Linked DNA regions of Homo sapiens: region 1 is linked to region 2. A link means that fine-mapping ties the variant in region 2 to the expression of a gene that starts in the linked region. Tissue or cell type: putamen. Region 2 holds a variant in brackets; the other region holds the start of a gene. All regions are shown on one strand. Distances are from middle to middle.

Evidence for each region. PIP is the estimated chance that this variant, and not a neighbour inherited with it, causes the effect.
Region 1: it holds the start of CEACAM16-AS1, and the variant in region 2 is fine-mapped to the expression of CEACAM16-AS1 in putamen (GTEx, PIP 0.96).

What each region holds. Positions count from the first base shown.
Region 1 is chr19:44,723,065-44,728,491 of GRCh38, reverse strand. CEACAM16-AS1 (CEACAM16, CEACAM19 and PVR antisense RNA 1) reads left to right here and starts at 3,309. Exons shown (of 2, transcript NR_186815.1): 1 at 3,309-3,655.
Region 2 is chr19:43,755,248-43,760,674 of GRCh38, reverse strand. No RefSeq gene overlaps it. Among named protein-coding and RNA genes, the nearest start is that of SMG9, 3.0 kb to the right of the region's middle. The variant A/T (reference allele first, on the strand shown) is at 3,388.

The DNA.
Region 1 (5,427 bases), 970 kb before region 2:
AGGGCGGCTGAGGTGGGAGGATCATTTGAGTCCAGGATGTGGAAGCAGCAGTGAGCTATGCTGGCACCACTGTACTCCAGCCTGGGTGACAGAGTGAGACCCTGTCTCAAAACAAAACAAAACAAAAAAACGGAAACTGGGAGGTGAGAACAGGACTGGGGAGGGAGGGGCAGAGTCGTGGTGGGGAAGTGACAGCTCACTGCCATTTGGTCCTTTTTGAATTTTGGAACTTGTGAACACCTTACCTTTTCAAAACACACACACAATTCATTCACTCTGCTAACAGGTTTTCCAGGCCCTGCCCTGGTGTTGAACAACTAAGATTCCTGCCCTTGGGGAGCCACAGACTCGTCCATCCATCCAGGAGACAGTCAACAAGACAAGGAAAATACAGCCAATGGTATGTATTTGCTATGGAGAAAAATAAAACTGGTGAGGGAATGAGGGAGATGGAGCATAGGAAGTGGAAGCTGTTGTTTAAATCTGGTGGCCAAGGGAGGCCCTCCAAGGAATGACGTTTGGGGCTAAGACTTGAGTGAGGGGAGGGAATGAACCATGTGGACATCTGGGGGAAGAGTATTCTAGGCAGAGGGAACAGCAAGTGCCAAGGCCCAGAGGTGGGTCGGAACAGCTGTTGGAGGCCAGTGTAGCTGGAGCAGGATGAGCTGGGGGAGAGTGGGAGGATGGGGAGAGGGGAAGGGTGGCAAGGAGATGGCTCAGGATCTTATGAGCCACTGTAGGGACATAGGCTTTTACTCAGAGGGAGATGGGAGCCATGGAGGGTTCTGGGCAGGGGAGGGATAATCTGACTTCATTTTTTATTTTTTTTCGAGATGGAGTCTCGCTCTGTCGCCCAGGCTGGAGTGTAGTGATGCCATCTGGGCTCACTGCAACCTCCGCCTCCCAGGTTCAAGCGATTCTCCTGCCTCAGCCTCCTGAGTAGCTGGAATTACAGGCATGTGCCACCAGGCCCAGCTAATTTTTATATTTTTAAAATAGAGACAGGGTTTCACCACGTTGGTCAGGTACCATGTTGGCCAACTCCTGACCTCAGGTACTCTATCTGCCTCGGCCTCCCAAAGTGCTGGAATTACAGGCATGAGCCACCATGCCCAGGCCAGGTTTTAATTTAATTTAATTTGTTATTATTATTACTGTTTAGAGACAGGGTCTCACTGTGTTGCCCAGGCTGGAGTACAGTGGTGCCATCTTGGCTTACTATAGCCTCGACCTCCTGGGCTCAAGCGATCCTCCCGCCTCAGCCTTCTGATGACTTAGGTGTTAACAGGATCCCTGTGGCTGCATGTGGGGGAAAGACAGGTCCTTGTGGAGGTGCAGCAAGGACCCAGGCAGGGAGTCCCATGAGGAGGTGACTGCATGGTCCGGGCCTTCAGTGATGGTGGCTGGACCAGAGTGGGAACTTTTTTTTTTTTTTGAGACAGAGTCTTGCACTGTCACCCAGGCTGGAGTGCAGTCGCATGATCTTGGCTCACTGCAGCCTCCACCTCCCGGATTCAAGCGATTCTCATGCCTCAGCCTCCTGAGTAGCTGGGATTACAGGCGCATGCCACCACACCCAGCTAAGTTTTGTATTTTTTGTAGAGACGGGTTTTCACCATGTTGCCCAGGCTGGTCTCGAACTCCTGGGCTCAAGTGATCTGCCTGCCTTGGCCTCTCAGAGTGCTGGGATTACAGGCATAAGCCACCTTGCCCAGCCACCATTTTTTTTTTTTTTTTTTGAGGTTGAGTCTCTCTGTGTCGCCCAGGCTGGAGTACAGTGGCGCAATCTCGGCTCACTGCAACCTCTGCCTCTGGGGTTCAATCGGTTCTCGTGACCTCAGGTGATCCACTTACCTCAGCCTCCCAGAGTGCTGGGAAATACAGGTGTAGGCCACCGCGCCCGGCCCTACATCTTTACTTCTTTTGGTCGTGGGGGCTTTTGGAGAGGTACAGGGAACCAGGAGACGGAGGACAGAGAGGACCCAGGGGACCGGGCCTGGCCTGTTTGAGCTGAGACCTGAAGAGCATGGGGAAGTGTTTGAAGGAGGTGAACAAAAGGCTTTATTAGAAAACCAGAAAGGAGGCTGGGCGCGGTGGTGCATACCTGTAGTCCAAGCATTTTGGGAGGCTGAGGCGGGAGGATCGCTTGAGCCCAGGAGTTTAAGACCAGCCTGGGCAATGAGTGAGACCCTATCGCTAAAAAAAAAATTTAAAAATTTACCCAGGTGTGGTGGCATGTGCCTGTAGTCTCAGCTACTCAGGAGACTGAGGTGGGAGGATTGCTTGAGCCCAGGAGGTTGAGGCTGCAGTGAGCTATGATGGCACCACTGCATTCCAGCCTGGGGCCAGAGCAAGACCCTGTCTTAAAAAAAAAAAAAAAAAAAGAAAAAGAAAAGAAAAGAAAGAAAAAGAAAAAAAAATACAAGCAGTGAGTGGTCAGGCTGTGGCTGTGGCACAGCACTTGGCTTTCTCCTGGGGGCACTGGGGAGCCATGGCAGATTCTGACCAGGGGTCAGGGTTGGGTTTCCAAGGACGCCTCTGGGTGTGGTGCGGGCAGGGAGACCAGCTGTGCAGCAAGACACCAGGTGGCCTGGGTTAGGAGGTGGGTCAAAGAGGGAGGGGTGAAGGTTACCAATCATAGATTTAGGAGGCAATTTTCTTGGAAGGAAAGGGTGGGGTGCATGCTGGCTTGCTGGCGCCACTATCAGCCACTGTCCCAAGGTTTTCTTGTGCGTAAACTCATGGAGCGTTCACCACCACCCACTAGGTATCCTCATTGCACAGCTGGGGAAACTGAGGCTGAGAGAGACACACTCGCTGGCCCCAGATCTCACACAGCAGGTTATAGGAGCCAGCATTCAAACTCCTGGAGTCTGACTCCAGAGCTTGGACATTTTCACGCCCCTGACTCCTTAAAGCTGGAGAAGCTGAGGCTCCCAGTTGGGGTGAAGTTCCAGGTTCAAGACCACACAGCCGGGAACTAGAAAGGAAGGATTGAACCCACACCTTACCATGGGACACGGCCCTGCCCATCCCCTCTCCTCCCAGCAGCGTGAGGGCTCGACCTCCGGGGAGTCCCCGTTCTGGGTTGGGCGCCACTCCTCCCTCCCTATCCGCTTCGCGCCCGGAGCTCTCTCCGGACTTTAACCCTGGGCCGCCACTGGTGGCGACGCTGCCGATAAGGGGAGGTGGTTGGTGCAGAGGCCAGCAGGGCAAAATTCCCCTACTCCCGGTGCCAGGGGAGTTACCCAGGTCAGGGGCGGGGGCGGGGGAGGGCAGGGGCAGAGGAGCGGGCGGAGGGGGAGGTGGAGGCATCTGCAGCTGGACAGAGAAGTGGTGCTTTGTTTCTCTGTGCCTCAGTTTCCCTCTTGGTAAAATAGGCATGGTTCCTCCTATGGATGTAAGAAGGACCTAGGAACCTTTGCAAGGGCAGAGGAGTCCGCCCCTCTGGTCTGACTGGGAGACAAGGTGTTCCCCAATCTGATGGTGGGGACAAGGTGGCCCAACACAGTGGGAAAAATAAGGAAACTAAGGAGCTCTCACCAAATCCCATGAGGGAGACAGGACTGTCCAAATCCAATGAAGAAGATAAGAAGCTCCAGTCCTGTGCAGCAAGAACGAGTGTCCAGTCTATATTTCCAGTCTGCCAGGGGAGGTAAGGAGCAACATTCTGATGTGTAAGACAATGTATTTATTTTTGTGAGTCAGAGTCTCGCTCTGTCGCCCAGGCTGGAGTGCAGTGGTGTGATCTTGGCTCACTGCAACCTGTGCCTCCTGGGTTCAAGCGATTCTCCTGCCTCAGCCTCCTGAGTAGCTGGGATTACAGACGCACACCACCACGCCTGGCTAATTTGTTATTTTTAGTAGAGACCGGGTTTCACCGTGTTGGCCAGGTTTGTCTTGAATTTCTGACCTCAGGTGATCCTCCTGCCTCGGCCTCCCAAAGTGCTTGGATTACAGGCGGGAGCCACTGCACCTGGCCAGGAGTGATACTTTGATGTGTGAGACAATGCAGTTCTAATTTGATGGGGGAGATGGGTAGTCCTAGTCTGATGGGGGTGTTGAAGGGCTCCCATGCCTTCTGGGAGAGCTGATGAGCTTCCAAATGAATGATAGAAATGGGGAGCCCCTCAAACTGGTGGGGAGACAAAGAGCCTGCTAGTCTGATGAGGGAGGTAAGAATCTTCCTGTCTGAAGTGGGAGCCAGGGTGCTCCCGTCTGAGATTCCAAGGTGAGGAAAGAGACGAAGAACATACTCACTGCAGCTCAGCCAGCTCCTTCCTGAGCCTGGGAGTCAAATGGCCCCAGGATGCCTGGCCAGGGAGCCAGGACCAAAAGACAGAGACGATTTGCTCTCCTGACCCAGGGGCAGTTCTGCCCAGCTCTGGGCCTGATCTACTTTTGGCAAAAAAAGACCTGGCTGGTGGTGTACGGGCACCACCTAGCGGTTGCCATGGGCACGCCTTCCATCCGGAGCTTGGGGAGAGCAGCTCCTTGGAAGACCAGAGAAGGGCTCCTTGGACTCTCTCCCTGGGACCTGGGTCCAAGTACCAAACTACCCCTGAAACTGGATTCTGTGCATCATTCCATTCACCCTGCATGTGGCAGCTGGGGGAGTCTCTTGGAAGTACAAGCCTACCTCTGTCTGTCCCTTGCTCACAACTCTGCAGTGGCTCCCTGGTGCCCTGGGAGGAAGTCCACACCCGGCCACAAGGCTGGCTTCTTCTGAACAACCCTATGCTTCAGTTGAACAATAAGTAGTTTCTCAAAGGTGTCATATGCAAAACTTACCTTCAGGCCTTCGCACAGGCTGTTCCCTCTGCCAGGAACACCCTTCCCTGCCTCTTCCCCAGCATCTCTCCTACTCCTCCTTCAGGTCTTGGAGTAGATGTCTCCGCCCTCGTGAGCCCCCTGGTCAGGGTCATGGTCTGGTGGGGCTGTCGTGGTCACTGCTGTGTTCCCCTGGGGCCTGACACTGACAATGCACTCCAGGGAATGTTTATGGAATGAATGAGTGAATGAATGAATGAATGAATGAATGCCAAGCTAAAGAGTTTGCCAGGGCAGCTGTAGGAGAGTTTAATCAGGGCCAGGACACGATCGGATTTAGAAGCCCCTAGGCTCCCCCCAGCTTTTTTTTTTTTTGAGAGAGAGGGATGGAATCTGACTTCGTCGCCAGTGCAGTGGCGTGATCTTGGCTCACTGCAATCTCTACCTCCCAAGTTCAGGCAATTCTCGTGCCTCAGCCTGCCAGGTAGCTAGGATTATGGGTGCACGCCACCACGCCTGGCTAATTTTTGTATTTTAATAGAGACAGGGTTTCACCATGTTGGCCAGGCTGGTCTTGAACTCCTGACCTCAGATGATCCGCCCGCCTCGGCCTCCCAGAGTGCTGGGAATACAGGCATGAGCCACTGCGCCTTGCTG
Region 2 (5,427 bases):
ATTTGATGACCAACGTGCATCTCAAAGTTAAGAATTTCAAAGCTTGTTGATTTCCCATCAAAAGTACTTTTCCTCATCCCGGTAAAAAGCCTCAGTCTTAGGCCGGGCGTGGTGGCTCACGCCTGTAATCTCAGCACTTTGGGAGGCTGAGGCGGGTGGATCACGAGGTCAGGAGATCGAGACCATCCTGGCTAACATGGTGAAACCCCGACTCTACTAAAAATACAAAAAAATTAGCCGGGCGTGGTGGTGGGCACCTGTAGTCCCAGCTACTCGGGAGGCTGAGGCAGGAGAATGGCATGAACCCAGGAAGCGGAGCTTGCAGTGAGCCGAGATCACGCCACTGTACTCCAGCCTGGGCGACAGAGCAAGACTCCATCTCAAAAAAAAAAAAAAAAAAAAAAAAAAAAAAGTCTCAGTCTTCAGGCAGTTGGCCAGGACCAAAACCTCTCGAACTTTTTTTTTTTAATTATTATTATACTTTAAGTTTTAGGGTACATGTGCACAATGTGCAGGTTTGTTACATATGTATACATGTGCCATGCTGGTGTGCTGCACCCATTAACTCGTCATTTAGCATTAGGTATATCTCCTAATGCTATCCCTCCCCCCTCCCCGCTAGAACTTTTTTTAATGCTGCAAATAACATGATGTTTTAATATATGTACACATTGTGGAATGGCTAAATCAAGCTAATTAACATATGCATTATTTCACATACTTATTTTTTTGTGGTGTGAGAAAACTTAAAATCTATTATTTTAGTAAGTTTCAAGCATATAACACATTGTTATGAATGAGAGTCACCCTGTTGTACAACAGATCTCTAGGATGACTTTCAAGTCACCCCTGATTCATGCTTCCTCTCACACCCCATGTTTAATTTCTTGGCGCTACCTTCAAAAAAGATCCCAGTTCCTGACCCTTCTCAACTCATCTATTAGCACCACCCTCTTCCAGAACCACTATCCTTTCTTGCCCAGGCAAGGACACCAGCTTTCTCATCTCCTGCTTCCGCCCCTGCAGGCCATTCTCCTCACAGCAACCAGCACTGTTTTCACTGAACATTTTTGCGCATAGCTAATAATTACGTGGTTTAAAAAAACAACAACGCTTTTTAAGTTCCCATAGCCCTGACCCACATCTGTCTATAACCCTCATCCCTATAGGCAATCACTGTTAATTTTTGTTGTTCACTGGAGAAGTCTTTGTAAACATTAATTGGAACAAGCCGGTGCTTGTTTGTAGCCCTGCAATGGCTTTGTTACATTTGGAAGTAAATTCCAAATGCTTACCATGGCCTGTAAGACTTTATGTAAACTGGCCCTGTCTACAGCTCCGTCTCTAAATAATCCTGCCCTTCTTTCCCTCCCTTGCTCTGTTTCAGCCACTCTGGCCACCTTGACCATCCTTGGACAGCCAGGCCCACTCCCACTTTGGGGTCTTTTACTGGCCGTTCTTCAGCATCTTTAGATGGCTCATTTCCTGACCTTCCTTAACTGCATTCAGGCCTCTGATCAAATGTCATCCCCTCAAAGCGGCCTTCCCTGGCCACCTGTCACTCTCTGTGACCTCTATCACTGTCAATTCCTGTAACCTGACTTTTTTTTTTTTTTTTGAGACAGAGTCTCGCTCTGTTGCCCAGGCTGGAGTGCAGTGGTGCGATCTTGGCTCACTGCAAGCTCCGCCTCCCAGGTTCATGTCATTCTCCTGCCTCAGCCTCCGGAGTAGCTGGGACTACAGGCGCCCGCCACCACGCTTGGCTAATTTTTTGTATTTTTAGTAGAGACGGGGTTTCACCATGTTAGCCAGGATGGTCTCGATCTCCTGACCTTATGATCTGCCCGCCTCGGCCTCCCAAAGTGCTGGGATTACAGGCGTGAGCCACTGCGCCCGGCACCTGACTTTATTTTTAATTGAAAAATAAAAATTGTATATATTTATGGTGTACAACATGTTTTGTATATTTATACATTGTACAATGGCTAAATCAAGCTAATTAACATATGCATTATTTCACATATTTATCATTTTTGTGGTGAGGACACTGAAAATTTATCCTCTTAGCAATTTTCAAGTATACATTGTTACTAACTATAGTTACCATGTTGTGGACTGGATCTCTTGAATTTATTCCTCCTGTCTAAATGAAATTTTGTATCCTTTGCAATGTCTTCCCAATCCTCACCCCCGATTTTCTTTTCTTCCAAGCATCCTTTATCTGATGTCATCTGCCCCACTAGAATATCTGCTCCCAAAGGGCAGGTGCTTTTCCTATTCATTACAGGATCTCCAGCCTACAGCTGTGCCTGGCAGATGACTAGAGTTCCATAATTCATTCAACATATAAATGAAAGAAATGAACAAAAAGTGAAAAAGAGATGAACAGGGCCAGGCGCAGTGGCTCACACCTGTAGTCCCAGCACTTTGGGAAGCTGAGGTGGAAGGATTGATTGAGGCCAGCCTCGGCAACATGGTGAAACTCTGTCTCTACAAGAAATACAAAAATTAGCCGGGTGTGGTGGCACATGCCTGTAGTCTCAGCTACTCGGGAGGCTGAGACAGGAGAATTGCTTGAACCTGGGAAGCTGAGGCTGCAGTGAGCTATGATCATGCCACTGTACTCCAGCCTGGGTGACAGAGGGAGACCCTGTCTCAAAAACAAAAAATAAAGACATGAACAGATCATTTGGCAATGGCTCTCAAAATTCCCAATGTGCATACCCTTTGACCCAGCAATTCTACTTGCACTTCAAATGAGATAGTCTACTGACAATACTAACATATACATGCAGCCACGTGTACCAGGATATTAACTGTAGCATAATCTCAGCACTTTGGGAGGCTGAGGCAGGAGGACTGCTTGAGCCAGGAGTTTGAGACAGCCTGGGCAACATAGTGAAACCCCGTCTCTACAAAAAATAGAAAATTAGCTGGGTGTGGTAGCACATGCCTGTGGTCCCAGCTACTCCTCAGGCTGAGGTGGGAGGATTGCTTAAGCCCAGGAGGTTGAGGCTGCAGTGAGCCACAACTGTATTACATGACTCCAGCCTGGGCGAGACAGCAAGAACATGTCTGAAAAAGAAAAAATTAGAAAACAGAAACATACACACAAACCCCTGCAGTAAATGTTTGTAAGAGCAGAAGTTCAGCAACAGTCTAAATGCTCATCAACAGAGAAAGTGTTAAAGTATGATATATCTCCAGAACAGCATACCATGCCACTAATACAAAAGGCAGCTCACTGGGTGCCTGACTGTACTGCTGACTCATCACCAGGCTGGCTCCCCGGTGCCAGGGAAAAAGTGTAGGCTTGCTCTGGAGTGAGACAGGCTTGGGTTTGAATCCAGGCCCGGGTTTGAATCCAGGCCCTGCTGCTTCCTGCCT[A/T]TGGGGACTTCGGTAAGGCCCTTCTCTCTTCCAGGCTCATTTGTCTACATCTGTTTTTTTTTTTTTTTTTTTTTTTTTTTGAGACAGAGCCTTACTCTGTCACCCAGGCTGGAGTGCAGTGGTGCGATATCAGCTCACTGCAACCTCCACCTCCTGGGTTCAAGTGATTCTCGTGCCTCGGCCTCCCGAGCAGCTGGCATTACAGGCGCATGCCACCACACCCGGCTAATTTTTGTACTTTTAGTAGAGATGGGGTTTCGCTATGTTGGCCAGGCTGGTCTTGAACTCCTGACCTCAGGTGATCTGCCTGCCTCGGCCTCCCAAAGTGCTGAGATTACAAGCGTGAGTCACTGCGCGGACCAACATCTGTTAAACAAATTAGGGGAGAAGATTATAGTGATGTATATAAAGCAGAGAGCACACAGCCTGGTACACAGTGGGTCCAAGGTCAATGCCAGGCCTCCTCTTTCCCTCTTTTAAGAAAATTCTACCTCTGAGGGTTGCCCTGACGTGAAACTGGCAATCGTGAGTGATCTGGGGTTGAGAAATTCAGATATGGCCTGAGCTGAAGAAGTAAAATTGGACACTGATAGACATAATACAGAGATGGCCTGTCATGTGTATCTTTATCAAACACCCAGAATCTTTCCCCAGAATCCATCAACAGTGGACTCAAGTCATTCTGGGTGACTGGTGTTTCTACCTGTGGCAGCCTGGAGAGGTGGCTCCACCTGGTACTGGTACTGGGACAATGACAGTAGGGATGAGGCCTGGAGGGGAGAGGGCTGCTCAGAATCTACAACTATCAGCATGGTAGACCACAAAATAATACACAGAGACAACACACAGTACCATTAGGCAACAGGCACTGTTCTATGCACTCTCACCCATTTAATGCTGGCGGCAATGTTGTAAGTAAGGTTATACCACACCCAATTCACAAACAGGGACGTAGAAGTAGAGAGTATTAAGTCACTTGGTCAAGCTCAGCCGCTATTTATATGAACTCAACACATGCTCTTAACTCCAATGCTTTATTATAACAGCAGCTCCAGAAGGAAACCGGGAACCAGTGCTTTAGGAAAGGAAAATGGGAACCAGAGGTGGAAACTTACTTTTATTGTATACAGCCAGAGAGGTTTGAATTGTGTATGTACATGTAATACCTGTTCAAATATAATTTTAAAAAACTTTTTTTTAGACCAGCCACGGTGGCTCACGCCTGTCATCCTAGCACTTTAGGAGGCCGAGGCGGGCGGATCACTTGAGGTCAGGAGTTCGAGACCAGCCTGGCCAACATGGCAAAACCCAGTCTCTACTAAAAATACAAAAAATTAGCCAGGCGTGGTGGACGCCTGTAATCCCAGCTATTTGGGAGGCTGAGGCAGGAGAATCGCTTGAATTTCAGGAGGTGGAGACGGCAGTGATCCGAGATCTCGCCACTGCACGCCAGCCTGGGTGACAGGGCGAGACTCCGTCTCTAAATAAATAAATAAAATAAAAATAAATAAAATTTCAAATAAAAAGCTAGAACCTTCCCATCCACCCACTCTGCCCACTGGGGAACTGCCGACCCTTCCGAATGCGCATGCGCTCTCCAGGCCGCGCCCGTCGCCCAATGTTCCTCTTTGGCGCGCGCAAGACTCCGCCCACGTGTGTTTAAATTTTCGACCCTGGAGCGGATTCCCTTCTCCAACGCGGCCTTCGAGGGTTTTAAACATAGTTCTGTCTCAGACTATTCTGCATCTCCCAGGCCTTAAGGATAAAACTGACACTGGAGACCCTTCAGGGTCTGACCTGCCCATTCTGCTGCCTCACCTCCCACCCAGGTGGACCCTGAATCCAAGCCAGTCTAGACCTCTTCCCCCGGGGTCTTCGCCGCCTTTGCTTAGCTGTTCCCTGGAGTACCCTCGCCTGCCTGTCCTTCAAGGTCCAACCGGACCCGCGCCCTTTCCTAAGTGATTTGAGGCCCTGGCAGTCTCTCCACAGGCCGGGGTGTCTTCCAGGGCGCACGCCAAGTCTGATTCATTCATGTGTTCT